Linked DNA regions of Homo sapiens. The protein of the gene in region 1 interacts with the protein of each later gene in a pairwise test. Each region holds a gene or a part of one and is shown in the gene's direction. Other genes may lie near its edges.

Evidence for each region.
Region 2: the proteins of NCALD (region 1) and TPSG1 interact in binary tests that used the Homo sapiens proteins (3 or more experiments, as listed by UniProt).
Region 3: the proteins of NCALD (region 1) and ANOS1 interact in binary tests that used the Homo sapiens proteins (3 or more experiments, as listed by UniProt).
Region 4: the proteins of NCALD (region 1) and SRGN interact in binary tests that used the Homo sapiens proteins (3 or more experiments, as listed by UniProt).

Annotation. Positions count from the first base shown.
Region 1 is NC_000008.11:101,684,599-101,690,922, reverse strand, and holds the end of NCALD (neurocalcin-delta), read left to right. Parts: intron 1-1,516; coding exon 1,517-1,614; 3' UTR 1,615-4,381; downstream 4,382-6,324. UniProt on the Homo sapiens protein: May be involved in the calcium-dependent regulation of rhodopsin phosphorylation. Binds three calcium ions.
Region 2 is NC_000016.10:1,220,983-1,230,723, reverse strand, and holds TPSG1 (tryptase gamma preproprotein), read left to right. Parts: upstream 1-5,471; coding exon 5,472-5,517; intron 5,518-6,095; coding exon 6,096-6,122; intron 6,123-7,129; coding exon 7,130-7,301; intron 7,302-7,806; coding exon 7,807-8,072; intron 8,073-8,382; coding exon 8,383-8,528; intron 8,529-8,627; coding exon 8,628-8,936; 3' UTR 8,937-9,073; downstream 9,074-9,741. Other genes in the region: TPSB2 (tryptase beta-2 preproprotein), read left to right, coding at 773-833, 987-1,158, 1,268-1,533, 1,661-1,824, 1,910-2,074; uncharacterized protein LOC124903621, read right to left, coding at 3,484-4,270, 5,163-5,473; CACNA1H (voltage-dependent T-type calcium channel subunit alpha-1H), read right to left, coding at 9,730-9,741.
Region 3 is NC_000023.11:8,527,325-8,534,484, reverse strand, and holds the end of ANOS1 (anosmin-1 isoform 1 precursor), read left to right. Parts: intron 1-24; coding exon 25-166; intron 167-1,431; coding exon 1,432-1,490; 3' UTR 1,491-5,611; downstream 5,612-7,160. UniProt on the Homo sapiens protein: Has a dual branch-promoting and guidance activity, which may play an important role in the patterning of mitral and tufted cell collaterals to the olfactory cortex. Chemoattractant for fetal olfactory epithelial cells.
Region 4 is NC_000010.11:69,084,219-69,091,102, forward strand, and holds the start of SRGN (serglycin isoform 1 precursor), read left to right. Parts: upstream 1-3,884; 5' UTR 3,885-3,939; coding exon 3,940-4,018; intron 4,019-6,884. UniProt on the Homo sapiens protein: Plays a role in formation of mast cell secretory granules and mediates storage of various compounds in secretory vesicles. Required for storage of some proteases in both connective tissue and mucosal mast cells and for storage of granzyme B in T-lymphocytes.

The DNA of each region.
Region 1 (6,324 bases):
TCCAGGTCTGCCCCTGCTACCTCCAGCTGGTGCCTCCCAGAGCCGACCCCTGAGAGACTGCAAAGTGTTCAGAGATCACGCCTGTCTCCCTTCCCTCATGCCTTGCCAAGCTGGAGGAAGTCATTACCATTGTAACTACTATGTGGGCAGGGCTGGGCTCATAAAAAATGGCCAGCACACAGAGCTTGGAGGGGATCAGCTCTACAAATTAAAAATAAATTAATAAATGCATCCCTATCTTTTTCCTTCATGGAGATAAAGTGGGTTTCATTAAACAAGAACTAGGTTCTGGCGGGGAGGGAGTTGTGGCTGAGGAGAAGATATGTTTGTTGGTGTTTCTGTTGGGGGAGGCCCCCTCCTGTCAGGTTTGGAGTAAGTTGAGAAATAAAAGAGGACAGAGGTCAAAAGATAGATACTGGAGGCTATGGCTTAGCGTGAGAGTCCAAGGACGTGCTGAAAAACCCACAGGCGTGCAGAGCCAGGCAGGCCGGGTGCTGCCCTTGGAGGAGCAGATGGAAATAAATCCTCTCTGGGGCAGCTCCTTTCAAGAGAAAAAGGGAGGGCAAAGCTGGGCGGAGATGCCCAGCAATTCCTCCCAAATTTACCAATCGAGCATGTCACTTCACTCCCAGGGGCGGGGTAGACAAAGAGGAAGGGTCCTTCTGGAAGCACCAGGAATGGGAAAAGCCTTGCAGTCCCCCAACTCCTACCCCACCCCCTCCCCTCCTCTCCACAAGTGACAGGCCTTCCTGGAAGAGAATTCTGTACGTGCTCCAGAGTAAGCAGAAAGGAAAGGTCACCGGGGTCGGAGTGGGAGCCCAGGCTGCTGAGCCTCCCTCCTCCAGCACATCAGGGTAGCAGGAGAGCACCCTAACTGAGAGGCAGAAACCCATGGGTTACCCTCTGCCTTGAACATACCCTGCTCTTCCCTGACCTCAGATGGAGGCACAGCTGTCTTCCCGTGGTGTATGAACAAACACTTACGTCCACGGCTTCTTCCCCAAGATAGGATGGGCTCTTGCAGCAAACCTAAGAACACAGAGTGGCCTGAAGAACACGAAGTGGCTCAGAAGGCTCCAGGGAACATTATGGGAACCAACCGGGTGCTGCCAGGGCCCAGCTCATTCTCATAAATGCAGGAGGGCCACTTGCTTTACAAATGCTGAGTGAGCCTCTCCAGGGCGCCTGGAGCCAGGAGGTCAGGGACCAAGTCAGCATCATCCACCACCCTCTCCCCAGTCCCGGGCCCAGGGCCGGGCACACAGTGGGCTCTCAGGCAGCGGCGTTTGATTGCCACATGTACTGTCCTAAGTGCTGGCAATGCCATGGTGAATGAGGCAGCAGTGTTCCTGGAGATTCCACTGGGCTCTTCCCCGGGACAGGTGAGTGCTGTGTGTCACAGTGGCAGTGAGGCTGCAGGCAGGTGAATCGACACTGCCCAGCACGCAGTAGTGGGAAGGGTGTAAGCTCATGCAGCTGCCACCAGCCACCACTCACCTGTCCTCTTGCTTCCTAGGAAAACTCTCCCTGGAAGAGTTCATCCGAGGAGCCAAAAGCGACCCGTCCATTGTGCGCCTCCTGCAGTGCGACCCGAGCAGTGCCGGCCAGTTCTGAGCCCTGCGCCCACCAATCGAATTGTAGAGCTGCTTGTGTTCCCTTTTGATTCTTCTTTTTAACAATTTTTTTTTTTTTTTGCCAAACAATATCAATGGTGATGCCGTCCCCTGTGCGGTCTGATGCGCCTTCCTCCGTGACGCCTTCAGCTTCTTTTGTCGTGGATGCTTCGTGGGAATGCCCAGAGCCCCAGTGTGCTTGTGGAGAGCATGGACAGACTTCGTGGTGTTCATTGTTTGATGATTTTTAATCGTTACTATTATTTTTTTTTATTCTAATGTCTCTGTTCTAAAACGTAAGACTCGGGGGTTGGGGCAAAAGAAGGGAAACCCATCCAGTCCTGTGATTCTATTGCAAGCTTCAAGGGGCTTTTGTTTGAAAGACAAAACTCCCCACCTGAATCTGTTGTCACACGTGCCGTAGGGGTGATGGATGGCACCGGATGCTGGATTCCCCAAGAACAAGTTACCCTCTGGGGTGAGGCTATTCCAGCGAGCTGGGACATTTCCCCATGGGGGCCCACTCCCCTCTCTTCCCCAGCAGGCTGTAGTTTCTAAGCTGTGAACATTTCAAGATAAATTAACAGAGGAGAGGAAAAAGATGGCTCAGCTATTTTTTCACAGGTTTACACTAGTTGAGCTAATATGCGTGTCTTTGGAAATTAAACACAAATGGTAACATATTCCAAAACCAGACCCATCTTGTTGCCTATTGTGATAAAATAAAAAGACGGCTGTATATAACATATTGGGTAATGCAGACCAAATTAAGTGTTTTGCCTTGTTTAAATGAAATGCATGTTTAGTGAGCACTAATACAATCTTATTCCAGAAGACTGTTTTTAGTAGCTTATTGTGAAGTAAGACAACTATAATGAATGTCTGTCTTGTTTGGAAGTCATATCTGTCTTTGCACAAATGTACCAATCGACAAGTATATTTTATATATTCCATAAAAATACAAAGTAACCCTGACTAGGGCCCAACTTTAATTTTGAATGCATTTCCAGAGTGGCCATGCCTAGAGGGCAGATGCAGAGCAGGTGGTAGTGGGACAGGACAATTGGAGCACAGGAATGTTAACATGTATGACAGGGGACCAGTAGGGTGGTTTCCCTCTCAGGCCCAGCAGCCCATTGACAGCATTAGACTGGCGGCATGGTGCTTTTCTGAGCAGATCAATACTCTGCAGACTCGAAAAAACATCACATACATTCTTGGAACTTCCCAGTGGTTTAATCTATGTGCATGGTTAGGGAGCCAGGTCTGGAATATTCAGTTTCCCTGCCCCTGTTAAAGAATCAGAGGTTGGGCAGTCATCAAATTCATCATAAAGACATGGGCAAGTGTGTCTGTGGTTTCCAAGGCCCCCCTATGGAGAATCCAAAAGTATTTTCCATTGCCGTGCTCTTTGAATGCAGACTTCTATTTCCAGAAGTGACAGCACAAGTCTGAGTTGCTGTTTGGTCTGGTGACCTCAGACACACTAATTTGAATTGAAAGCTAAGAGTAAAAATTTGCTGGTTACAGGCGAGTCATACTCTTGCAAGTAGTTAGCAAAGGGAGGCCCAAATTCTCAAGGTTGTTGATGGGGAACTTGCCACTAAGAGAAGGCAGAGAGGTCCCTAGTGGGTATATTTGCTGCCAAGCCACTTGCCAAAGAAGAGGAACCACAGAAAGAGAGACATCATGACCAGGAGAAAAATGTGACTAGACATGCTAACCTCCAGGTTTTTATATATGACTTGAGTCTGCTGTAATTGGCAGCAGAAATCCAAATTTGTATGGTAGACCAAAAAGAACCAAATCCATAGGGTGAAATTTTGAGACCTAGACTCTGTAAAAATAATCCTAGTCTTCCTCCAGGGGTCAGTTCCTCACAGTGGTTCTGTACCAAAACTTGCCAAATTCCTCCATGGCCAAGTGTTAAAATCTGTGTTTGGAAAATAGCGAATTAACCTAAGACACAGAAGGCAGACTGGGTGAGGAGACCTAGCATGCCCTATTGGCAGTGCTCAGGAGCTGCATCCCACTTTTCCCTGCTCTGAATCGAAGTCCTAGTTCCTTCCTTTGATTCTCCTTTGGTAGGTGGAATCAGTTAATGTTTTGAGAAACCTGCCTGGGCTCTGCCCTTAGTCATGACATCTCGCTGAGCCAGACCCACTCTGTTCCTTGGAACCTAGAGCTGGAGTGAGGAGTAGAGGTCTCCGGCTATTCCAGAAAGAAAAGTGAGCCACATGCAGGCTGATGAATGCCGACACTTCCAGAATGTATAGAAATAGTCCCTGTCCTGGCCTGCCACTGACCCTGTCTGTATTTTCTCGGAGGTTGTTTTTCTCCTTCTCCTTCCCAGGAAGGTCTTTGTATGTCGAATCCAGTGCACTCAAGTTTGGCCAAGGGACTCCACAGCACCCAGAAGACTGCATGCCTCAAGGTTTATGTCACTCCTCTGCTGGGCTGTTCATTGTCATTGCTGTGTTCAGGGACCTTTGGAAATAAAACCTGTTCTGTCCCAAATAAAACCAGCCTGTGATGTTCAAGGGACTGGAATAAAGTGGCTTACGACCTGAAGGATTCTACAGAGTGCTCAACTGTTCATACATCATTCAGAGTGGGAGGGAGCTGGGGGTGCTGTCCCATCCCATCTGTATGCCCACGGTGGATTTAATAATATATAATTTATAAATCATAGCCTATGGAGTGGCCCGTAAATCAGTTGACTGTGTAGCTCTTGCCTGGCATTAAAGCATGTTTTTGGTTTAACATGATTTTCATGAGATTTTCATGCCTAAACTGCTGCCCCAGCTGAATCTGTGCCTTACTGAGGCTCTAGCTTCTGATACTAGCCTCCTCCTGGGTATTTTTCCTGCCTAGAGTGACACAAGGAACCAAGGTTTGTGAGGGGGGATGAGAGAGGCTGCTGACCCCAAAGTTCTGTCCAAAGGCATCCTTGGTCTTCATATGGGCTTCCTTACATCCCTCCCTCCATGGTCTACACTTCCTTCCCATATCCTCTCCTTCCTCAAACTAGAGTCCAAATGTTAGGTACAATAAAGGGAGAAACTGAGGCAACCTCCCCTTCAATGGGATCTGGGTAAGCTTCAGGAAATAAATAACCTCTTCACCCCTCTCAGCCTGAGAAGGTTCAGTGAAAAAGATGACATGAGGCAGAGCCTACACTCTGAAAGCCAGTTCCAATCATGGTGTTGGCTGTTGCTGTCATTGGCCTTGCCTCCAGCACAGGAGGCCGTTACTGTAGAGAAAAGGAGCTGCCATCTTGCTAACTTGAGTGTTAGCTGTGGGAGAACTTCACGGGCCAACTAGACCATGTGTGGGGGCAGAGTTGCCCTCGAGGGAGTCTTCCTACTGCACACAGTTGGCCACTATGGACCAGTGATGGCCCTGACACCATGAGTCCTGAGCATGAATAACACAAGTCTGATCCTGAGAAGGTGGCTGGGCGTCTCCAATCTCATCAGGAGCCTGCCTACCAGCAACCTGGGAATTTTCAGCAAATTTCCAAACCTGAGGCTCCTATTTTCAGGACATTGTTCTGCTGCCCCAACCCAACTGAGTCCCCACACATCCTAGTTCGGTACCCACCAGCTGAGGAAGAGTCCAAGTGTTCTCTCAGTCAAGGTAGAAAGGAGAGCATAAGAACTGCCTTTGAAAGAATGGACCTCCTTCCCTTTTTTTTTTTTTTTTTTTTTGCTTTGGTGGTTCTCTCTTTTTTTTTTATTTATTTATTATTATACTTTAAGTTTTAGGGTACATGTGTACATTGTGCAGGTTAGTTACATATGTATACATGTGCCATGCTGGTGCGCTGCACCCACTAACTCGTCATCTAGCATTAGGTATATCTCCCAATGCTATCCCTTCCCCCTCCCCCCACCCCACCACAGTCCCCAGAGTGTGATATTCCCCTTCCTGTGTCCATGTGGTCTCATTGTTCAATTCCCACCTATGAGTGAGAATATGCAGTGTTTGGTTTTTTGTTCTTGCGATAGTTTGCTGAGAATGATGGTTTCCAGTTTCATCCATGTCCCTACAAAGGACATGAACTCATCATTTTTTATGGCTGCATAGTATTCAATGGTGTATATGTGCCACATTTTCTTAATCCAGTCTATCATTGTTGGACATTTGGGTTGGTTCCAAGTCTTTGCTATTGTGAATAATGCCACAATAAACATACGTGTGCATGTGTCCTTATAGCAGCATGATTTATAGTCCATTGGGTATATACCCAGTAATGGGATGGCTGGGTCAAATGGTATTTCTAGTTCTAGATCCCTGAGGAATCGCCACACTGACTTCCACAATGGTTGAACTAGTTTACAGTCCCACCAACAGTGTAAAAGTGTTCCTATTTCTCCACATCCTCTCCAGCACCTGTTGTTTCCTGACTTCTTAATGATTGCCATTCTAACTGGTGTGAGATGGTATCTCATTGTGGTTTTGATTTGCATTTCTCTGATGGCCAGTGATGATGAGCATTTTTTCATGTGTTTTTTGGCTGCATAAATGTCTTTTTTTTTTTTTGAAAAAAATGCAGTTTTATTCTGTTTACAGAAGTAACATTGTAAGCATATGTATGAATACATAGTTAAAAAGTATAAAGACAAAAATAAGTCTACCATATATTAACAAAAAGAAAAATTATATGGTTAAATTAATAGTGAAAAAAGTAGATCTTAAGTAGAAGTGC
Region 2 (9,741 bases), on another chromosome or scaffold:
TCATGTGAGCCTCCCACCAAGTGAGTCGAGGAGGGCTGGCGCCACCCCCGTGGATTCGGAGTCCGTAAGAGGGGTGTCACCCGTCATGTCCCCACCCCGTGGGCACCTTCCCGTCTCTTGGAGGGTGGCCCATGGACATGAGTTCCTCACCCCGTGTCCCTCTTGGGGAAACAGGTTTCAGGAGCGATGGGTCTTGTAGCCTGGGACAGCCAGGCCACCTGGGTGCAGCAATGCCTGAAGGCCTCCTGGCACCGAGACAGGGGCAGGAGCAGATCCCACCAGCGGGAAGGTGGTGGGTTCTAGTGCTGGGATCCACCAGCTGACAGGTGGAGCTGCCAGTCTCCAGTGCTCAGCCCTCAGCGGGGCCTGCCTGGCAGCCCCACACACAGAGGGCATCGGGGTGGCGGGGGCACGTGTTACACGGGGGCCCTGGGTCTGAGTCATCCACTTCCTCCGAGTCTGGATGGGAGGACCCAGCGCCCCTCCTCCGCCCCCTCCTGATCTGGAAGCATAAATGGGGAGGGGAGAGCCCACTGGGTAGAAGGAACAGGGAGCGGCCAGGGTAAGTCCCCACTCTCAGAGACCCTGACATCAGCGTCACCTGGAGCAGAGTGGCCCAGCCTCAGACTCAGAGCACCAAGACCCAGGCCTGCAGGCCTGGACCCACCCCGGTCCCCCCGTCCCAGCTCCATTCTTCACCCCACAATCTGTAGCCCCCAGCCCTGCCCTGTGAGGCCCGGCCAGGCCCACGATGCTCCTCCTTGCTCCCCAGATGCTGAATCTGCTGCTGCTGGCGCTGCCCGTCCTGGCGAGCCGCGCCTACGCGGCCCCTGGTGAGTCCCAGCCGGGGTCCACCCTGCCCCTCACCACATTCCACAGGTCAGGGCCTGGGTGGGTTCTGGGGAGGTCGGGCTGGCCCCCACACAGGGAAGGGCTGGGCCCAGGCCTGGGGCTGCTTCCTGGTCCTGACCTGGCACCTGCCCCAGCCCCAGGCCAGGCCCTGCAGCGAGTGGGCATCGTTGGGGGTCAGGAGGCCCCCAGGAGCAAGTGGCCCTGGCAGGTGAGCCTGAGAGTCCGCGACCGATACTGGATGCACTTCTGCGGGGGCTCCCTCATCCACCCCCAGTGGGTGCTGACCGCAGCGCACTGCGTGGGACCGTGAGTCTCCCGGGGCCTGGAAGGGTGGGGAAGGGCTGGATGTGAGCCCTGGCTCCCGGGTGCTCCTGGGGGCTGCCCAGGGCCCTGAGTGGGATCCTCCGCTGCCCAGGGACGTCAAGGATCTGGCCGCCCTCAGGGTGCAACTGCGGGAGCAGCACCTCTACTACCAGGACCAGCTGCTGCCGGTCAGCAGGATCATCGTGCACCCACAGTTCTACACCGCCCAGATCGGAGCGGACATCGCCCTGCTGGAGCTGGAGGAGCCGGTGAACGTCTCCAGCCACGTCCACACGGTCACCCTGCCCCCTGCCTCAGAGACCTTCCCCCCGGGGATGCCGTGCTGGGTCACTGGCTGGGGCGATGTGGACAATGATGGTGGGTCTGGGGACAGTGGAGGTGGGGCCAGGGTCTTAGCCACAGCCCAGCCCCTGGGCTCCCTCTGGGCTCCAGGTGGGGGTTGCCCGGCCCCCTCCTGAGGCTGCACCCTCTTCCCCACCTGCAGAGCGCCTCCCACCGCCATTTCCTCTGAAGCAGGTGAAGGTCCCCATAATGGAAAACCACATTTGTGACGCAAAATACCACCTTGGCGCCTACACGGGAGACGACGTCCGCATCGTCCGTGACGACATGCTGTGTGCCGGGAACACCCGGAGGGACTCATGCCAGGTGGGCCCCGCCTGTCCCCCGCCCCCCGCCCCCCAACCCCCACTCCCAGGCCTGTTCGGCGAGCGCTGACCTCTGACCTTCCCAGGGCGACTCCGGAGGGCCCCTGGTGTGCAAGGTGAATGGCACCTGGCTGCAGGCGGGCGTGGTCAGCTGGGGCGAGGGCTGTGCCCAGCCCAACCGGCCTGGCATCTACACCCGTGTCACCTACTACTTGGACTGGATCCACCACTATGTCCCCAAAAAGCCGTGAGTCAGGCCTGGGGTGTCCACCTGGGTCACTGGAGAGCCAGCCCCTCCTGTTCAAAACACCACTGCTTCCTACCCAGGTGGCGACTGCCCCCCACACCTTCCCTGCCCCGTCCTGAGTGCCCCTTCCTGTCCTAAGCCCCCTGCTCTCTTCTGAGCCCCTTCCCCTGTCCTGAGGACCCTTCCCCATCCTGAGCCCCCTTCCCTGTCCTAAGCCTGACGCCTGCACCGGGCCCTCCGGCCCTCCCCTGCCCAGGCAGCTGGTGGTGGGCGCTAATCCTCCTGAGTGCTGGACCTCATTAAAGTGCATGGAAATCACTGGTGTGCATCGCTGTGTTTCTGGTTGTGGATGTCACTGGGAGAGAAGGGGTCCAGGTGTGCTGAGGACACCTGCCACAGTGTGAGGTCCTAGCCCTCAAGGCACAGCCAGTCACCGTGGGACGGGGCCTCCTGGGCAGCCCTGGTCCCCGAGGCTGGCTTCTCCCCACACGATGCATCCAGCATTCGGGTCACACAGAGCCACTCGGGCAACTCAGTTGATTATAAAGGACAGCCAGGTCCCTGCAACCGGGTCAAGACAGAGAATGGTCACCGGGAGCCCCAGGGCTGCCCATCACGAGCCCCTACCCCACGCTTCCCACGAGCTCTTCTCCCGGCCCCTCCGTCCACTGCTTGTGCTTTGCCTAGTTGTTTGCTTTGAGACGGGATCTCGCTGTGTCATCCAGGCTGAAGTGCAGTGGTGTGATCAGGGCTCACTGCAGCCTTAACTCCTGGGCTCAAGCGATCCTCCCATCTTGGCCTCCCATATAGCTGGGCCACAGGAGTGAGCCACCACGCCCAGTTAATTTTTGTATTTTCAGTAGAGATGGGGTTTCGCCATGTTGGCCAGTCTGGTCTCGAACTCCTGACCTCAAGTGATCCGCCCGCCTCGGCCTCCCAAAGTGCTGGGATGACAGGCGTGAGCCACCGCACCCGGCCTGAGTTTGACATTTTCAAATTCATTTTGAGGTCTTTCTCTACATCAATAGGTGAGCCCTCTGCGTCTGGCGAGTGTTGCATTTTATCCCGGGCTCTTGTTTGCATTTTATATTTGAACATGATTACACTCAGGAATGAAATGCGGGGCTGTTCTGGTTGAAAACAACTCTCTAAAGAAACATTCACTCTTTCCTTCCAACTGTTAGATGCAGAGATGTGCATTTAGTCTCCCGAATCTCTGCAAATGACCTCTGTCCTCACAAGGGGTGGACTCAACTCCCAGTGCCCTCTCCAGCCCCACGTGACCTCTGCCTCTGCAGCCCCTGAAGGCCCATCCCTCGGCTCCTGTTCTGCAGGCCCAGCGTCTTGTTAATGAAGATGGACCTGGAACTCGGGCCCTTCTTCCTCCCTCTGGCCCATCCCACCTTCTAGGGATCACAGAGACAGCACGGGGTGACCCCCAGGGAACACTGAGCCCCTAGAAGCACTTCCACACGCCCACTGGAGGTTTTGCGGGGTGGGAGTCGGAGGGATGAGACCCCGAAGGGAAGCAAGACGGCCCCTCAGGACAGGGCTGCCGGTGTAAGGAAAGGTGGACAGCAGGGGCCGGTCACTGGGTGGAGGGGGAGGGCGGGCTCCAGCCCCAGAGCTTCCCAAATTAGATCTAAGATCCCTGGGAAGCTCAGTGAAGCTCAGCCCAGTGACACTGGCAGATGTGAGCGTCAGCTTCAGCAGGAAGGGTCTCTCAGGACGTGGCAGGCAGGCTGCTGGCCAGGGCTGCAGCCACCTGCGTTTTGACTGGGACGGGGGCACCTGCTCCAAGGTCACCCACGTGGCTGCCGGCAGGAGGCCCTGGTTCCCCGTCACAGGGGGGTGTGAGGCGGAGGGCGAGTGGGGGGGACAGGGTTCCCACCGAGGGGACGGCACCCAGGTGGCCAGGCCACCGCAGACAGAAGCAATCCCAGGTCTCCCAGGGTCCTGGACAACAGGAGACCCCACCAAGCTGGGGGCAATCACCAGGGCCAGGCCCCCCTCCCGGTTCCTCAGTTGGCTCTCCTGTCCAATGGTGGGGGTGAACGGCACCATGTCACAGGACTGCTGGGGCTCAGGGGATGGTGCCTGAAGCTTCTTCCTCCCCAGCAGGCCTGCAATCTGGGTCGTGTGGAGCACTCTGCGGGGAGTGGCGTGCTGGGGCACAGGCAGAAAGACGGGGTCCCCAGTGCTGCAGGTGAATTGAGTTGGGACAGGTGAGGGCCCTGAAGTCCCCACCTGTGGGGACCTGGGGACAGCCCTAGAGGTCAGGACTAGAGGACCTGGTTCCATGAAGACCCTGCCCCTCAGGCTCCCTCCCCACTGGGTGACATCGCCCTGTTAGGGGCACCCTGGGCCGGGGACTCGTGGCTCAGACCCCGCTCCCTTGTGTGGGGTGGGACTGTCCTGCCTCCCCTGAGGCGCCCCCTCCAGGTGTGCGGCTGCCGTGAGGGAGGAGGGTGCCCGGCCGTGGGTGCACTGCTGGCCCCGCATGCTGGTGTTGTCCTTATTGGTCACCAGGAAAAACACTGAACCTCCAGTTCTGAGCCTTGGCTACCCCACGTGCTGGCGTGCAGGCGGCCACGTCTGTGCCTGGGAGGCCACATCCTGGTGGGTGGTCAGGCAACTCCCCCCAACCCGTGGCTGAGTTTCCCCACATCAAAGAGGGGATCCCTGACCTAGAAGGTCTCAGCTGGACCCTCCAGCCTGGCCTGTGATTTGGATCTGGGGAGGGCGGCAGGAAAGTCCCGGGCGCTGCCCAGGGCCCCTAATCAGCTGAGTCATCAGGCTGGGGCAGCCAGGACGGTTAGGAAGGGCCAACCCAGGCTGGGCCGTGAAGTGGTGCCCATCTGATCTGCCGCACGAGCACAGGACCTGCTGCCGGACGTGGGGACAGGGACTTCTCAAAGAGTGGTTGTCACGAGGGCCTGAGCTGTCTCCAAAGGGCTGCTGGGCCTTGAGTTGGGACCCTCCTGAAGAACCCCCAGGACTGGGCTCCCAGAGGATGAAGGAGAGGGGGTGGCGTGCCCCGAGGGAACCAGGGAGTAATTTTTGGAGGGGGCGGCACTCAGAGGAACACTCACCCCTCCCTCAGCCCTGGCCCCGGAGCAGAGACAAGGTGAGAAGTACTTTTGCCTTCTGTCCTTCCCCGCTTTCCCTTGACGGAGCCGGCCACTTGGTGCCAGGGCTGTGGCGTCCACACAGGGATAAATGGAGGTGACGACCCTTCTCTGAGGTGCAGAAGGAACAGGTGGGGCCGTCTGTGGAGCTCCGGCCTCCTCCTCCGTCCTCCCGCCCTGCCTGACAGCAGGTGTGTGGCCACCCCTATCCCCCACGCCCAGCAGGTCCAAGGGTCAGGCTGGCCCTCCTTCTCCCTACAGTGGGCAGACACCATGGCCCTTGGGGCCTGTGGCCTCCTGCTGCTCCTGGCTGTGCCCGGTGGGTGACCTGGCCTGGGTGTGGGGATGGGGGGGCATCTGCTTCCTGCCTGGACCCCTGATGGGGGTGAAACTGGGGGCTGGTCTGAGACGGAGAAACATGCTGAGTCCCCACCCTGTGGGGCCCCGTGTCTCCTCTGAAGAGACTGCACCCCTGGCTGGAGGCCCAGCTGTCCGTGCTGGGGAGAGGCAGGAGGGATGTGCGGGTGGGAGTTGGGGGTGCAGGAGTTGGCAGGGCGGGTGGTAGTTGGGGGTGCGGGTGGGAGTTGGGGGTGCCAGGAGTCCCAGGCCCTAGAACACTGGTGATTTCTTTCCTGAGCAGGACCTGGAGGGCGGGGAGGAGGCCCAGGCCTGAGGCCAAGCTCCCGGCCTCCAGCTGCCGTTTATGGCCTGTGGCTTGTCCCACCCAGCCCTGGGCCAGTGAGACAGCAGTTGACCCAGCCTCACCAGGCCGGGCCCCTCTGCTCAGGACCAGGCCCCACCCCAGTGCCGCCCTGAGGCCTGGCAGGGGCCTCTGGAGCCCGCACACCCCTCTCCTTGGCAGCCCCCTCCATCCTGGGCCCTTCGTCTTTCCCACAGGTGTGTCCCTCAGGACTTTGCAGCCAGGTACGTCTCTGACAGGTGTGGGGTGTGGGGGAGGGTGCAGGCAAGGCCTGGCAGGAGGGCCTCGGTGACCCTCTCCTTCCCTGGGGTCCCAATGGGGGCCCGGGGAGGTCATAGTTTGTCGCCGTGGTTTCTGCTCGCATCTCTCGGTTGAGTGGGGCTGGTCGGGGTGTGCTGCAGGGCTGTCTCCCCCACCACCACTGTAGTCAGTCTGTACCTTGGGAGATGCTCTGAGGCCATGAAACAACCTGGCCCTCCTCGAACTTTCTCCCCACAGCGTCCCCACCGTGGCCCTGGAACCAGCTGGGGGCTTTGCCGTGTGGGAGAGCCGGTGCCCCACCCCACACCCGCTGCCTATCTATAAACATCTCTGTCTGTCTACATCCCAGCTTCCCTTCCATTCAGCCCAGTGGCCACACTCCATCACCAGCACAATTATCCAGCTCAGGCAGACCCAGGTGTGGCCAGTGGGTCTCCAGCTGACTTCCTCTTAATTTCTTCTTAACTTACTGAGGTGAAGTTTACAGAAGATAAAGTTACATTATCAAGCGTCCAATTCAGAGGCCCCGAGCACCTTGGACAGTGCTGTCTGCCCCCCGCCCCCCGAATTTTATCCAGCTTCGAATATCTCCACCACCCCTGAAGGAAAACCGGGGCCCACTAGGCAGCCACCCCCAGCACCCCGGGCCTTCTCGGGGGCTCCACCGTTCTGAGCCCCTTTCTAGCCGCCTAGGGGCCCTCTGCAGCCTTTCCACCGCCTCCGGGAGCCCTGGTTAGTTTGTGGAGCATGGTGCTTAGAAAGGACGACCTGAGCCCCAGGCGCGCTCACTGCTCCTGAGACGTCATTTCTGCTGCACCCACGATGCTTCTGGGGAGAGTCTGGCAGACGAGAGAGCTGAAGAGCAAAGTCCCCAAGAAGGCAGGGAGGTGTGGTCAGGGAAGGCTTCATGGAGGAAGTGCAGTGGGTTTCTTGGGATCCCCACCAGGCACCCCTTCCTCCTTCGACTTAGGGTGTGGCCGGCCGCAGGTTTCGGATGCAGGCGGCCGGATCGTGGGGGGTCACGCTGCCCCGGCCGGCGCATGGCCATGGCAGGCCAGCCTCCGCCTGCGGAGGGTGCACGTGTGCGGCGGGTCACTGCTCAGCCCCCAGTGGGTGCTCACAGCTGCCCACTGCTTCTCCGGGTGAGTGTCCGGGTGGGCAGGGGCAGTCTCAATGTCCAGGCCCCAGTGGGGCATGCGCCAGCGCAGAGGCCTCCACTTGGTCTTGACTCACTCCGAGGCTTGGGAACTCTGAGCCTACTTCCTTCCAATGGAAAGGGAGGAGCTGGTTGCCCACCTTCTGTGAGGTTCTGCAGCTCTTTGCTCACCTCTAGGGATGGACAGCTCCCTCCCTCCTTCCCTCCCCTCGGTCTCTTCACGTGGAGCTGAGCTTGCAATCTGCCTCCTGACCAGCCCCTGCTGGTGTCGGGCATGCTGCTGGCTTTTCCAGGGGCTGGCAGGAACCCCAAGGTGCTGCCGTGGTCCTTGGGCCCTGCAGGGTGAGGCCACTGCCCAGGCTTTCTGCGTCCCAAGCCTAGGAGGGAAGAGCTGGGCTTCGGATGCCTGCAAGGGTAGGGTCTGGGCGGGGCCGACACTGACCTCCAGCCTCCGCAGCTGGCCCCTCTCACCCAGCCACCTTCCCTCCCAGGTCCCTGAACTCATCCGACTACCAGGTGCACCTGGGGGAACTGGAGATCACTCTGTCTCCCCACTTCTCCACCGTGAGGCAGATCATCCTGCACTCCAGCCCCTCAGGACAGCCGGGGACCAGCGGGGACATCGCCCTGGTGGAGCTCAGTGTCCCCGTGACCCTCTCCAGCCGGATCCTGCCCGTCTGCCTCCCGGAGGCCTCAGATGACTTCTGCCCTGGGATCCGGTGCTGGGTGACCGGCTGGGGCTATACGCGGGAGGGAGGTGAGGAGCCCCCGTGGGGATGCTGGGATGGAGGAAGGCAAGGGCGGCAGGAAGAGAGCTGGCTTGAGGGATGCTGATGCTACCACCTGCTCCTGGTGGCTTCCACACCCAGCCAAGGCCGCCCCTATCGGCTGTCCCTTTTCAAAGCCTGTCGTGTGGATCCAAAGCAGCAGCCAAACGTCAGATCACAACCCACGTGCCGTGACGAGGGTCGTGGTGGCATGGGACTTGTGTCTGGCAAGGTCTCCCATCCCCCCAGTGCAGGGCCTGGTGCCCCAACCTTCTCTGAAGCCTGTTCCCCCCACCCCAGAGCCTCTGCCACCCCCGTACAGCCTGCGGGAGGTGAAAGTCTCCGTGGTGGACACAGAGACCTGCCGCCGGGACTATCCCGGCCCCGGGGGCAGCATCCTTCAGCCCGACATGCTGTGTGCCCGGGGCCCCGGGGATGCCTGCCAGGTGAGCCTGCCAGGCCGTGACAGAGGATGGGGGCGGCTGAAGCCCAGGGAGGGGCTCCCCATCTTCTCGGCTCCCAATGCTCGCCTTCTCTGTCCTCAGGACGACTCCGGGGGGCCTCTGGTCTGCCAGGTGAACGGTGCCTGGGTGCAGGCTGGCACTGTGAGCTGGGGTGAGGGCTGCGGCCGCCCCAACAGGCCGGGAGTCTACACTCGTGTCCCTGCCTACGTGAACTGGATCCGCCGCCACATCACAGCATCAGGGGGCTCAGAGTCTGGGTACCCCAGGCTCCCCCTCCTGGCTGGCTTCTTCCTCCCCGGCCTCTTCCTTCTGCTAGTCTCCTGTGTCCTGCTGGCCAAGTGCCTGCTGCACCCATCTGCGGATGGTACTCCCTTCCCCGCCCCTGACTGATGGCAGGAATCCAAGTGCATTTCTTAAATAAGTTACTATTTATTCCGCTCCGCCCCCTCCCTCTCCCTTGAGAAGCTGAGTCTTCTGCATCAGATTATTGCAACATTTAACCTGAATTTAAAAGCACACGAAACAAAGGTGTCAATGGGAATCTCGCGGCCAACGCCCCCAGATGTAGGGGAGGCCTGATTCGCATCGGGGCCGGGCGCGTTACTCCATGGGGTCGGCCCCTTAGTGAGGTGTCACCTCTCCCAGAGTCACAGGACGCTTCTGGGAAGGCCCGAGCGGAACGGAAAGGGTGGTGGCTGGAAGGGGAGGGTGGTGAGGGCGTGACAGGCGGACAAGAACTCAGACTGTGAGTGAAGGTGACATTGGGCCGCGGTGGCTGCAACCTGCCGCCGGCAAGGGCACAGGGCCCCCAGCGAGTGTCCTGTAACAACGCGGGGCCTGAAAGGACGCAACCTGGTACCTTCCCCTCTCTGGCGGGTGCCCGGTCTTCGTCCCACAGACGCGGCTTCTCTCCTGACGGGAGGCTGACCCAGTTGCCCGCACAGCCTCGGCTGGTAGCAAAACTCGGAGAAACCCGAACCAGAACGGACGGAGGCTCGTGGGGCCCGGCAGCTACTCCTGCTTCGCTGGGCAGAGAACCAGGGCCTGGGCCGTCATCCTCCCCGGGCCTTTCTGCTCACGACGGGACCCAAGTCAGGGTCCATGCAGGGTTCTGCCTGGGCCTCCACCCCAGCGGGGCCCCCAGACCCCAGGGCCAAAGCCGTGGGCGGCACCAAGCCCCGAGCTACACGGGGTC
Region 3 (7,160 bases), on another chromosome or scaffold:
TGCTCTTTTATGTTGTCCCCTTAGGATCATTATGTCCTAACAGTGCCCAATCTGAGACCATCTACTCTTTACCGACTGGAAGTGCAAGTGCTGACCCCAGGAGGGGAGGGGCCGGCCACCATCAAGACGTTCCGGACGCCGGAGCTCCCACCCTCTTCAGCACACAGTGAGTGGGGTGCCAGGGCATTAAGCCATCCTGTCAGGTCTTGTGGACATAGAGAAAAATCTTGCTGGAAAATGAAAACAAATAAATACACTAGTACAGGTTTCTATGAGATAGGGAAATTGTCATCATCTGAAATTCTTTCTCCCTGTTTGTACCGACTTACTAGATTCTATTCCAGGCACCTGTAGTATACATTGCATAGTTGATGCTTAATTGTTCTTTTTCTCCCTCCCTCCCTCTTCCCCGCTTTTCTCCCTTTCTTTGCTCCTTCCTTGTTTCCTTTCTCCATCCTCTCTCCCTCCCTCCTTCATTCTTCCCTCTCTTCTTTTCTCCTTTCCTCTATCCTTCCTTTGTTTTTTTTTTCCTTCCTTGCATTTTCCCCTATGTAATGCATGCTTTTTTCCTTGTCTTTTAAACCATAAATACATATGGGAAAAAAATCTGTAGTCTCATATCTGAAATATTTTTAAATCAAGATTTTCATATATCACAATATAGGAAATAATATTTTGCTAAGGAACTTATGTTCTTGTTACATAGATATTACTGTAATAAATATTATGAATTTTCTTCATGATATGACCCAAGTCCACCTACTTCATTTATTGCTAAATCAAGTAAAATTTAAAAAGAAAATTGTCACCTAGATTTTCAAAACAGCCTCTTGCTGATTTTTAAATTATGTACTTCGTTTACTTTATTTTCTAGCTTAAATTTTTTAAAAAAGTGTCTGATGACTAGTGTGTGGACAAAACATTGAGAATTAGTCATAGTTTTAACTCTGATTTTTTTAAATGATAGATTGGTATGCTTATAATTGATAACTTGGTATGCTTATAATTTGAAGAAAAACAAAAACTATCACAATGGGAGAGCTTGATAGCCTCTAAAATTTTTGTCAGATAAATGCTTTTCTGATATTCCTTCATAGAAATTCCTTTTAACAGAAGTATTTGATAATTTTTAAACTTCTTTGAGCAAATAAAAAAGGATTATGGTTTGATTGGATAAGTGTGAGCTTAAGGAAAGGAGCTTGTCTTCTTTTTCTTGTTATTTTATAGTTTGGGAAGACATCAAAGAGGAAGAGAAAAACAGGAAAAGGAGAGAAAGAGTGTGGTTGTACATTCAGATTCAGAATAGGAAAGACATGGTCATAGGAAGGAACATTTGCCAGGGTCTCGTGCTTTTTCTACAAATAAAGGTAATTCTATCATTTATTTGATACATACAAATGGATGTGACTGACATATTTTGTCACTTTTTAGGATCTCATCTTAAGCATCGTCATCCACATCATTACAAGCCTTCTCCAGAAAGATACTAAACTGTTCAAAAAGATTTTGTGAAATTGCACAGATGTGTAAGCTTGTTGAACTTCGGCCACGAGACATGCACACTTCCAGAGGCAGTGGGAACTGCTCAGAGGCCCGGACTCTCCTATGTGACTTTAGTGCAGGAAGAACTTCTGTCAATCATGGACGCATCTGGAGACAAGTGAGAAACAGTAGATTGGTGAAGACAGACACCAGTTCCCTACAAGCATGGAGAAAATGAAGAATAGGCCTGTTTAATGCTAAATTTTGTTTTCATGTATGGTGTCGCTCATTTCTATTGAATTACAACAGAACTCAGTTTTCCCTGAATTTGGAGCACCAAACTCCGCCCCAAAAAGGAGAGTAACAAATACACAATTCACACATAACACTAAGCGTAAATCTAATCAATAAAATATATTTTTGACTAAATTATTGATTCGATATGAAAAATCAACTAAGATTACACAGCTTTGTTTTTTTGAATCTTTCCTAAGATCATTTTTATCCTAGGTGATTTTTAAATGAAAATGTGTAATCTAAAATATACCAGCGAATTTAAATCTAAAAATGCTCCTACTTTAAGTACCTTGTGCTGCTCTTTATGCAAAGGTAAATCAAAGTTCCCTCTATAAATTATGATTTACAAAAGACACCCAAGCCAGAGGAACTCAATGAAATAAGCTGCTAATCAGATTTTACCTTGGAGAAATGAAAATTATTTCTTGGGGATGCCTTTTAATATTTGATCCTATTATGTGAGAGATTTTCCTGATATGTTATCTTATTTATATTTTCCCTTATTTTCCTCAATGCAGATAATAGCTTTTGGTGCACTTTTGTTTCACCATCTGAAAATTCACAAAACTTCTTGCTTCAAATGAAAAAATCCCAACTATTGAGCATGTTTAAATCTTTGCAGAGATTTGCCTTTTCTTAATCAAAGAAAGGTCTTTGTGTGCTAGAATATTATTGGTAATGTTTTAAAAATTCCTTTGATTGATAGAGAAGGACAGTTATTTGCATTTAATTCACCCATATGCTTTCAAATCTAGTATATCTTACTTTTTGGAAATGTTTTATGCTACAAATTAGTGCCTTGTAGCATGAACTTAAGTCAAAACGTGTTATCAATATAGAGTGTTGCAGTGTATATTGTAACAACCTAAAACGCAGAGAAGTTTAATTTAATACTGTTTTTTTTCTTGAAGGAATACTCACATACATGGTTTGAAATGTGCATAGATATGCATGTCTATATAATTATAAATGCATGTGTATATATATGCAAATATATGTACATATACATGTATATACACACAGACACATGCATATACATGAATATACCTTGAGCATGAATCCCTGGAGAAATCGTTTTCGTAGCTCACCAATGGTGAGTAAAGATACAGCTCTTTTAAAGGTCATAAGGATAATATATTTTCCCCATCAATGCTGATTCTGAGAAAAGAGCAATTTATCAAAATTAAACACTGTAAAAGAAAGGTGTCCATATGTCTTTACCTACCTAAGTAAAACAGGAAGAAAATCAGTAACATTATCCTTAGGTTTTGACAATGGTACTTGCTTCTTGTTGTTTTATTGTTTCCTGAATTCATGCAGATGCCTGGCCATTCCTGGGAAGAGTGGATAACTCAGAAGTCACTGTACTCCACAGAGCCTCACTGCAGTGTCTAAAGGTAGATGCAAATTAAAATGCAGGGAAAATAACTTTTCTGATGTTGATGCATGTCTTTGGGAAACACATTTATAAACATGGATACCTGATAATAGATATTGAAACCCATTTCCTGTGTGTTAAAATATTTAAAAAGTGGATATTCCAGGAATGTTTTGCAGCTTTGTACAAGTAACATAAATTGGACACCTCAGAATGAAAGTTCATGTTGGTTCTGAATGGTTCACTGCAGCTCCTGTCACAAGCTGGGATGGATTTATCACATTGAGTTATGAAATTACCTGGTTCTAAGAATTTTTGAGTGGCAAAAATAGAAAACAATCTTCATTTGAAAACATCCCTAAGCTTGAATAAATGGATACCATAGATAGCTTCTCTTTTTTATTCTGGTGTCATTACCAGCATCTGAATTTCAAGTTCTTAAAATTTCAAAAATTAAAATTTTTCATTATTAGCTATCCATTTATCTTTTACATGAACTTGTCATGAACAAATTCAAATGTTTATGCCAGCAAATTTTTGTACTGTTGCATAGTTAAAAATGCTGGGAGTCTCTGCATAGATACAAAATATTATTAAATTATTACATAAATTTAATTTTATAAAATTTAATCATGCTTCTTTTGTCTGGGTAATAGACATTGGACAGATATTTTTAGTTCAGATGGTGATTCTGAAGCTTACATCTCCCTTAAAAAAATCTAAAGCAGCTCTTATGGGCTTCTAATTTTAATATAAATAAATAATTTAAATTTTATTGGTGTTATTGGAAGAAAAATGCTATTAATGGGCTAATAAAAAACATGTGTTTCTCTTATGGATTTTAATAAGCTCCAGTATTATTCAAATGATCAAAAATATAGTTATAATTTTTTGAATTTTAAAAATGTGATTGCTCTAATAAAGAATAAAATCTATGCTTTTTAACAAACATAGTTTTGGTGCCTAATTCTGTAATATGTTTTATTGAAATTAGATTCATTTCTCTAATGTGAGAAAAATATATCCAGTAATAGTATTGACTGTTTAAAAAATTGAGCTCATCAAAAATATTGTCATCAAATACAGGTGGTTAATCTGACATACATTGCAGTTACATGCATTATTTTTATTTACAACATTTGCTCCTTAATGATGAATTTATCTGTGTTACCCTGTTTTTCTACCTGGAACTCCATAGAATGATGTTTGCAAACCAACATGTGCTCTTTTCAGTCATTCACTGTTTTAATATGACATGGTAGAGAAGATAAGGTTTATGGCAGGTAATTTTTTGTAATGTGTATTAAACGAAGTTCAAAGATTAGAAATACATCTGTGTCCTGAAAACCTTAGATACATAGCCGACTGTATACAGAGGTTCATCTCAACCTCAACACTATTGACTTTTGGGGCTGGATAGTTCTCTGTTGTGGGGGTTTGTCTTGTGCACTGTAGGTTTTTAGTAGCATCCACACTTTCTCCTCACCAGATGCCAGTTGCACCCTCCCCCAAGTTGAGACAACCAAAAATGTCTCCAGATATTGCCAGCTACCCCTTGAGGGATGGTACCTCTGGTTGAGAACCATTGCTAGAGAATGATCTTTACTGAATTTGCCCTTTATAAGAAACCCAGTGAATTTCTAGAGCAAGTCCCAAAAACTAAGGGACAGCTAAGAAGTTATTATGGTTGACTTCAAAGGCCTAAACTGTGTTTTTTATGTCCACTAAACAACTTGATTAAAAGACGGAATTTTGACTCGTGTCTGTATCATACAAGTACAAATACTAATTTTGCCCTATGTATCCGTAAATGTCATTTGTGATTTTGACTTATTTATTTAATGCCCTTTCTTATGCCGTGGGTTTTCAAGTTTACTCATTTCTATGGTTGCAAATAACTCTAAAACTTATTATATAAACTTTCATATTATAGGCAGAACACAATGGCTAAATATCTGTTGCATGTACTTTAAAGTTTATTATAAAATATAAACAGATATATAAAGATGTTGACTCTTACCTGTGATTTTGCATGGTCAGACTCGGTGTCAGGTACGGAGAGGATTCTCATGACTGTCTTACCTCTACTGAATATTCTAGTGAGTTATATGATTTACGGAGTGATTAACAGAGGTCTATATAAAGTTACTTTTCCCCTTTACTTAATTATATTGTAGTGTGCAGATAACAAAACTGCTACCTTCTCATCCAAGTGGTCTGTAGAATTCATGTCCCTTACAGTGGTCATTTAAAGTCAATATTTATTTATGTATGTAATAAAAAAAGTTGGATTTTTGTGTATGTCTGTCACATTATTTAGAGAGAAGTAATCTTGTAAAAATGTTTTGTAAAAAACAAAAAAGTATTGTAAATAGTCTTGATATTCTGTGACTCATTATTTTCATGTTAGAGTTTGTACATACTGGTTCAATAATAAAGTATCCTTAAACCAGACCAAGGAGTCGACTCATTTATTTCTTAAAGAAACATTTTTGCTGGGCACAGTGGCATGCACCTGTAGTCTCAGCTACTCGGGAGGCTGAATCTGAAGGATCACTTGAGTCCTGAATGTTTGAGACCAGCCTGGGCAACATAGCAAGGCCCTGTCTCCAAACTTAAAAAAAAGAAAAGAAACTTTATTGAATTTAAGAGGAAAAATGGACAGTTCCTGCTGCCAAGGAGATTCAAAAAGTCTCTTTCCATGTCAGTGTTAATGGAATTTGAGGTCTGGTAAATGTTAACAAGACAGCACTTCATCCTAATGAAAGTATCTTGGAGTTTGACAACCAACACTTCAGATTTCTATCATCATGTTTACAATTGTAACTCCTGATGGTTTTAGTGGTATATTAAGTCAAGGATATACAATTTTAAGCTGTTTTTCTTTTGCCACCAATATTTACTCCTAAAATTGTAGATATATGCAATGCCAATAAGCATTCACCTGTATTTCAATACTACTCAATTGTTTTTCAATACTACGTACTATACTATAAGCCTTTAAATCTCCATTATCTAAGTAGAGTTTTGAGAGGCTTGTACATCCCCACTTTGACATGCAATTGACCCATAATTGCTGATGAATTGGAAAAAATGCCTAAGAAAAAAAAGCATAAGAAATAAAGGCTTTTAGGGCATTCACCAAAATAATATATATTGTACCCATTAAGTAATTTCTCTTTACTCCCACTCTCCCACCCTCTGACCCTCCCACCTTTCCAAGTGTTTATTGTCAATTATTCTACATTCTATGTACATGTGTACACATTATTTAGTTCCCAATTATAAATGAGAATATGTGGCATTTGTCTTTTTGTGTCAGCGTCATTTCAATTAAGATAATGGCCTCCATTCCATCCATGTTGCTGCAAAAGACATGATTGCATTCTTGTTTATGGCTGAATAATACTCCATTATGTACATAGGGACCACTTATATGCTGTTGGTCATAATGTAAATTAACATGACCTCTATGTAAAACAGTATGGAGATTTCTCAAAGCACTAAAAATAGAACTACCATTTGACCTAGCAGTCCCACTACTGGGTATCTACCCAGAGAAAAAGTAATCATTATATGAAAAAGATACATGTTTATCACAGCACTATTCACAATAGTAGAGGTATGGAAACAGCCTATCAAGGCTATCAGTGGAGGATTGCTTGACGCTTTTATGCCATCTTGAAGTTACAGAAAGAATGGGGGCTCGGATCTTGGCAACACAATTTATGGGAGGGAGAGAAGAGAAGTCCTGACTAGCAAAGGTGGTCTTGTTACGCAGATGAAACCTCCCAGGTCGCAGCCTTTAGAGAGAATAGATGGTGACTGTTTCTTTCAGACCTTAAAGGTGTTAGGCTTTTAGTTAATTTTTCCTAGATCCAGACACGGGGGCAGGGAGTGGGTGTCAGAGAAAGCCTGGCTGCAGCAATGCATCAATGCAGATTTTCTCTACATCTACAGATGCCAATTTCCCCCACAAAAGACAGCTTTGTAGGGCTGTTAT
Region 4 (6,884 bases), on another chromosome or scaffold:
GAAATGCTTAGCATGTACCTCTACAAGAAAATAACAAAAAGGACTTCTGATTATTTACAAATCTTAATCTTGCTTCCCCTTCATTCCTCATCTATCCCAGGGCATGGATTAGGAAGCGTGAGTTCTAACCCTGGTTTGCCCCTTGCTAACCGTGTGAGCAGAGGCAAATCATTTAACCTTTCTGGACTTGCATTTTTCTCACCTGAGTGAGGGAACTAGATGATTTCTAAGATCCCTTCTAGTTCTAGAAATCAAAAATTCATGCAAGGGCCGTCCTTCAAGCCTCTAGAGACATACAGATTTGGTGCAGTATCTATTTACTGGTTTTTGTTTGTTTGTTTGTTTGTTTTGTTTTTTTGGTGCAGTGCCCAGTTCAGAGTCAAGACCCTCTCAATGAAGAGCCAAGCAAAAGTCCTAGAGGCTGCTGGTGGCGGAATCTTTAACCTGGAGCTTTAGGAAAGAAATAGGCCTTGGAGCTTCCCCTTTGTGCAGTTTCATGGTGCCCTCTGTATCTCTTCTCATAACCTCAATTTATCATTTTTTTTTTCTTTTTTTGAGATGGAGTCTTGCTCTGTCACCCAAGCTGGAGTGCAATGGCATGATCTCTGCTCACTGCAACCTCTGCCTCCCAGGTTCAAGCAATTCTCCTGCCTCAGCCTCCTGAGTAGCTGGTATTAGAGGTGCCCGCCATCATGTCCAGATAATTTTTTTGTATTTTTAGTAGAGACAGGGTTTCACCATGTTATCCAGGCTAGTCTCAAACTCCTGACCTTAGGTGAGTGATCCGCCCACCTTGGCCTCCCAAAGTGCTGGTGTGAGCCACCCTGCCCTGCCGGCGACCCGTCACTTTATTAAACAACAGGAACTGATTTCTGTCATGTTCCAGGTGACTGTTAAGGAATAAGAATACTCATTTTATGGGCAAATAAACTGAATGTGAAGTAAAGTAGGTGCATCTCAGGTTGCCTGGTGAAAGAAGGATTAAGTCTGGTATAGGGTTTGTCTTTTAAAATTGTGGAAAACATGCATATCGTAGATTGACTTTTAGGGAAAGATGTGGGTCCTATTGGGTTAATGGCGGAATCTTTTGGTAAGATCATGCCCAGCCCTGAGGACTGTTGCCAATGCCTCCCTCACCACGTGTGCCATGTGCTCTTGAGGACATCCTGTCATTGGCTTCCCACACCATCATTACATCTGGAACAAAGGACGCATAAAAAGTGAGTGGCCCAGCGTGGCTCAGCTGGTAAGTGAAGGGCATGGGCTTGGACCCAGGACTTCCAGCTGCTGCAGCATGTGTCCTGCTCCCCTACAGCTTGAAGAGGGCTAAATGAGACTGGAGGACTTCTTAGAAAAAGAGACTTGATTATCAGCGTAGTGGGAGAAGAGCAAATGCTTATGAATACTGCACCTGTGCTTTAAAAGTCACCATGAGCTGGGCGTTGTGGCTTACGTCTGTAATCCCAGCACTTTGGGAGGCCGAGACAGGTGGATCACTTGAGGTCAGGAGTTCGAGGGCAGCTTGGCCAACATGACAAAAACCCCATCTGTACTAAAAAAAAGAAAAGAAAAGAAAAGAAAAGAAAGAAAGAAAAAAAATTAGTCAAATGCGTTTGCTTGAACCCAGGAGGTGGAGGTACACCCTGGGCGACAGAGAGAGAGAGGTAAAAAACAACAACAACACCATGACCCAGAGAAAGAAAGAAAAAAAATGAAGTTCCCAAATGGAAAAAGCCCCTAAAATTACCATTTTAAAACACAGCCCTAATCAGCTCTGGGGATTTGCAGGAAACTCATCGAAGCTATTGATAGGAACTATTGTTTTGGTGCCAGGGTTTTCAATTGGGAGTTAGATTTAAAAGGACCAAAGATGACATCTGATATTTCAAACAGAAACCGACATTTCTCAGTGGAAAACTTTCCGGGCCAGTGCATTTTGGGGTTGGTTACTGTGCTTGGAGACGCCCCTGAGTTGGAGGACACACTTCTGGCTGATGTGAGGGGCTTCTGAGGAGGGCCAAAATGTACACTCTTTGTGTTCTTGCACCACGGCTATTAGACTGTGAGACTCTGTCCTTAGCAGGAAATGGTAAAGGAATCAGCAGGAAGCCTAAAACAAGGGAAGGGAAACTCCTCCCTCCTATCAAAGGCCAGGCAAGGGCGAGGATGAGAATGGAAAGTGGGGCACGTGCATTAAGCCGTCTGGGGGAGCGGTAGGGATAGACATGTTGAAATGGAGAGTGGTTGAATCTTGAAAGGAAGTAAGGAAAATGTATATGCCACAAGGGCAAGGATGTATGATAGGCTTGTATTTATTGTATAACTTTATTTTATTTTATTTTATTATTTTTAGTTTTTTGAAATAGAGTCTCTCTCTGTCACCCAGGCTGGAGTGCAATGGCACGATCTTGGCTCACTGCAACCTCTGCCTCCCGGGTTCAAGCGATTCTCCTACCCCAGCCTCCCGAGTAGCTGGGACTACAGGCACTCGCCACCACGCCCGGCTAATTTTTTGTATTTTTAGTGGAGACGGGGTTTCACGGTGTTAGCCAGGATGGTCTCGATCTCCTGACCTTGTGATCCACCCACCTCAGCCTCCCAAAGTGCTGGGATTACAGGTGTGGACCACAGCACCTGGCCTTTATTGTATAACTTTAATATGGAGCCTTAGTCCTCCAGAAATCTGCACCATGCCCAGGGAAAATGCTGTTCCTTTATTTACATGAGGCAGAGGTTTGTGTTGTTTGCTGAGGTCCAGCAGCTCACTGTGAGGACAACCTCTCCCTCGTTCCTGATTTCTGGCTTATTCAAGGCCAGAGGACCCAAAACTCGAGTTGAAAATTTTGACTAGGAGAACAGATAAAAATAGAAATGGAATCCATCTTAAGAAATGCTCAATGTGAAGGAGAGGGGAATGCAAAATAGTTTTTCTGTTTTACCACAGTCTTTGTAACTGAAAATCCTATGTTCTTGAGATAGAGAGAGAGCCAATGATCCAATGCAAGAAACTGAGTTTAAGAAGAAACTGTTTGCTGGGCACGGTGGCTCACGCCTGTAATCCCAGCACTTTGGGAGGCTGAGGCAGGCGGATGGCCTGAGGTTGGGAGTTTGAGGCCAGCCTGGCCAACATGGTGACACGTCGTCTCTACTAAAAATACAAAATTAGTCCAGCGCAGTGGTGTACGCCTGTAATCCCAGCTACTCAGGAGGCTGAGGCAGGAGAATTGCTTGAACCCTGGAGATGGAGGTTGCAGTGAGCTGAGATCGCGCCACTGCTCTCCAGCCTGGGTGACAGAGTGAGACTCCATCTCAAAAAAAAAAAAAAAAAAAAAAAAAAGAAGAAAAAGAAGAAGAAGAAACTGTTCATCTGAAATCCGACAACTCATTCTTGAAGGTTAGAGCTCAGCTTTGAAGTTTCACTTCACGAGCTTGGCTCAGTGAGGTATGTTACTCCCCGGTGAAAAAGAAAATGAAGAGAATGTTTTATGTTGAAAGTGCTTGGTGACGAAAAGGCAGCACCTAGATCCCTTATCTCATAAAAAATGCAGCAGATTCTTAATATTAGCAATCTAGTGTTTAGATTGTTACCTGAAGAAAGGAAAAACAAACTGTCCCAAATGCTGATTCTACTGTTTCGGTGGGAAAAAAAAATGTCTTGCAGGCAAGTGGCAAACAACAAAACTTTTGAAAAAGCAGGCCTGGGGGGAGTCCAGTACAGTTTCATAATGGGTATGAATAGTTATTTTACTGTGTTCCCCCCACCCCCTTTCTTTCTGGGTTTTGATGTGGATGTCTTTCTATTTGTTCAGGAAATTGTGACGTGTGTTCTGGGCAGGGTTTGAGGTTTTGGAACATTTTCTAAAAGGGACAGAGAGCACCCTGCTACATTTCCTAATCAAGAAGTTGGCGTGCAGCTGGGAGAGCTAGACTAAGTTGGTCATGATGCAGAAGCTACTCAAATGCAGTCGGCTTGTCCTGGCTCTTGCCCTCATCCTGGTTCTGGAATCCTCAGTTCAAGGTAAGACTCAGGAGTCTTGTTCCCCAGCCATCTTCTCTGTAAGCCCTGTGGTCCATGCAAGTCATTATATTCATTTTAAGGCATAGAATGTATAATATTGTGAGAAAGGAGGCAAAGAAGAAGGATTTGGGGTCGCTGAACCCTTTAATATGAGTTCTGTTAAGTTTGGTACCAAGAAAAATTAAACTCTGTGGCGTGTGCAGTCTTGTAAACTCTTACAATGATTGAAATGTGCTATTTTGGGATGAAAATGTGAGGTTTATAAATTTTAAAAGCTCAAAAAAGGAATCTAGAAAATGACTCCTGTGCCTGTTGCATGGAGGAGATGGCACCTTTGACTGTTGGGGGGTGTCTGCCTACCCCTAAGTGTCTACATCAGCCCCAAGTTTTAGTGCGCTGTGACGGTGTCATTGTTATTTTAACACTGGGAGACGTTATATTCCAATTGGGGTGAATCTGACTGTGTGTATTTTCTTTTCTTTTTTTTTTTTTTAAAGATAAACTTGGTTCTTACTGAAAACTCAATTATGGTTAGACATAGTTCATGTAAAACCTCTCAGATTTTAAAGAGAAGGCCAAATAATTTGGTATTTGTGCTCTTGCTCAGAGAAGCATCATATTCGGAAATATCTTCCTAGGTTTATCTACCATTTAGTGTTGTTTAGTCAGACTGAAACAACTTAAAACCTGTAATGACTAAGACAATGAAAATGATAGGCTTGTAAGAAAAATACAATTTGTTATTCTTTGGCAAATAAGGAATCATGTCTAAATAAGACGGAGGTCATGGCTTGATAGAGAGATGGCTGAACCTATAGTAGAAAAACACTAGGTTCCGCCAAATGGTAAGGGAAATGTTGAGTCACAATGACACACATGTCCTAGATTTGTTTCGTCAAAGCGACTTTTGGTTGTCATGATCTTACTTCCGGTGGAGATGAAATCTTACAGATGATCGCAGAGACATTCATTTTATGTTGGAAATTTATAAAATCATTTTCTTCTAGTTATGCTAATGCTGAAAAAAGAGCAAGTAATGTTTCTGGAACGTTATTAATTTATGTATTTTTAAAATATAAAACATTGTCAATTGTAGGGAACAGGCTTCACTGGGATCTTTTAGGGAATATCTTCAGCTTGATGAAATAATTCCCGAATAGCCAAGTGGTCTGACAAGATCGAGAGTAATGAGGCCCATACTTTAGTACAGTCTTGAATGGCCAGATGGTGCTGGGCATACCCCAACCAGAGATATGTAAGTCTTTATGTTGTCAAAATTTCCCAGAAACATGAATTTCCCACTAAGATTCATTAAGGAAAACTAGAATGAAAACAAAAACGTTCCTTGTATAATATTCATTAGAAAGAAATGAAGAAGGCCGGGCATGGTGGCTCACGCCTGTAATCCCAGCACTTTGAGAGGCCAAGGTAGGCAGATCATGAGGTCAGGAGTTTGAGACCAGCCTGGCCAACATAGTGAAATCCCGTCTCTACCAAAAATACAAAAAAATTAGCCGGGCATGGTGGCACACACCTGTCATCCCAGCTACTCAGGAGGCTGAGGCAGGAGAATTGCTTGAACCTGGGAGGTGGAGGTTGCAGTGAGCTGAGATTGCACCACTGTACTACAGCCTAGGTGACAGTGCAAGACTCTGTCAGAAAGAAAGAAAGAGAGAGAGAGAGAAAGAAAGGAAAGAAAGAAAGAGAAGGAAAGAAAATAATTCATCATGAAATTGTATAGAATACTAGCATTTATGTCATGACCTCGTAGGTTTAGCTCTTTGTTAGAAAAGGAAACCATAGAAAGAGACAAGGGAGAAACTGACAAACTAGGGTGTTTCCGAAAAAAGGCTCTCAGTATCGGGCTCAAGGGCTTGTGCCCACATCTGAGCATGCAGGGAAATAGATGTCCCCCACTGGCTGCACATGTGAGTGACTGCGGCACAAGGCTGTGATGTGAAGAGTCGTGACACCATTTCCTCACACCTCCACGCAATGCCAGATATGATTCGACAACATTCTTCCTGTCTTATAAAAAGTGTTTATCTAGCCCGTTGGTTTGGCAGATGAAATCAACTAGGCTTTTGGCTTGCTTTTACTGAGCATATTCAAAACCATTTCAGGTCACTATAGTGGTTTGCTCGGGTTGCCATAACAAAGTACCACGGACTGAGTGGCTTAAATAACAGAAATGTATTTCCTCACAGTTCTGGAGATGGGAGTCCAAGATCAAGGTGCTGGCAGGGTCGATCGCATTCTGAGGCCTCTCTCCTTGGCTTATAGATGGCGCCTTCTCCCTTGTCTGCACATGGCCTTTCCTCCATGCATCCGTGTCTTAATACCATCTTCTTAGAGGGTCACCAGGCATTGGATCAGGGCCACCCTAATGGCCTCATCTTAACTACCTATATCTGCAATGACCCTATTTCTGAACAATTTCACATTGTGAGATTCTGTGGGTTAGAACTGGAACATATGAATTTGGTGGTGGTATATTTTTATTATAAGTCAAACCCAAGTAAAGATGTGGGGTAAGATTGTGTTTACCAAGCACAAAGAAATGGAAATTTGGGGATGTGTAACTCTGGAGAGCACAGATGACTAATCTATTTAATGTAGGGCTCCAGGGGATTTGATGAGGCCTGTGAATCTTCCACTTTTATTGCCTCTCTTTTCCAATGACACCCATAAAGAAAAAAAATGGAATATCCATGAACAGGTGCAGCCAAGGAGGCCAGGCCCGCCATGTGTCCACTGTATACTGTCTCCTAGCTCACAGGAATGATACTGATCCACTCCTTGTGCTGCTCTTTGTAAAGTGATTTCACATCCATTCTCTGGTAATCATCATCACATTCCCTGTGAT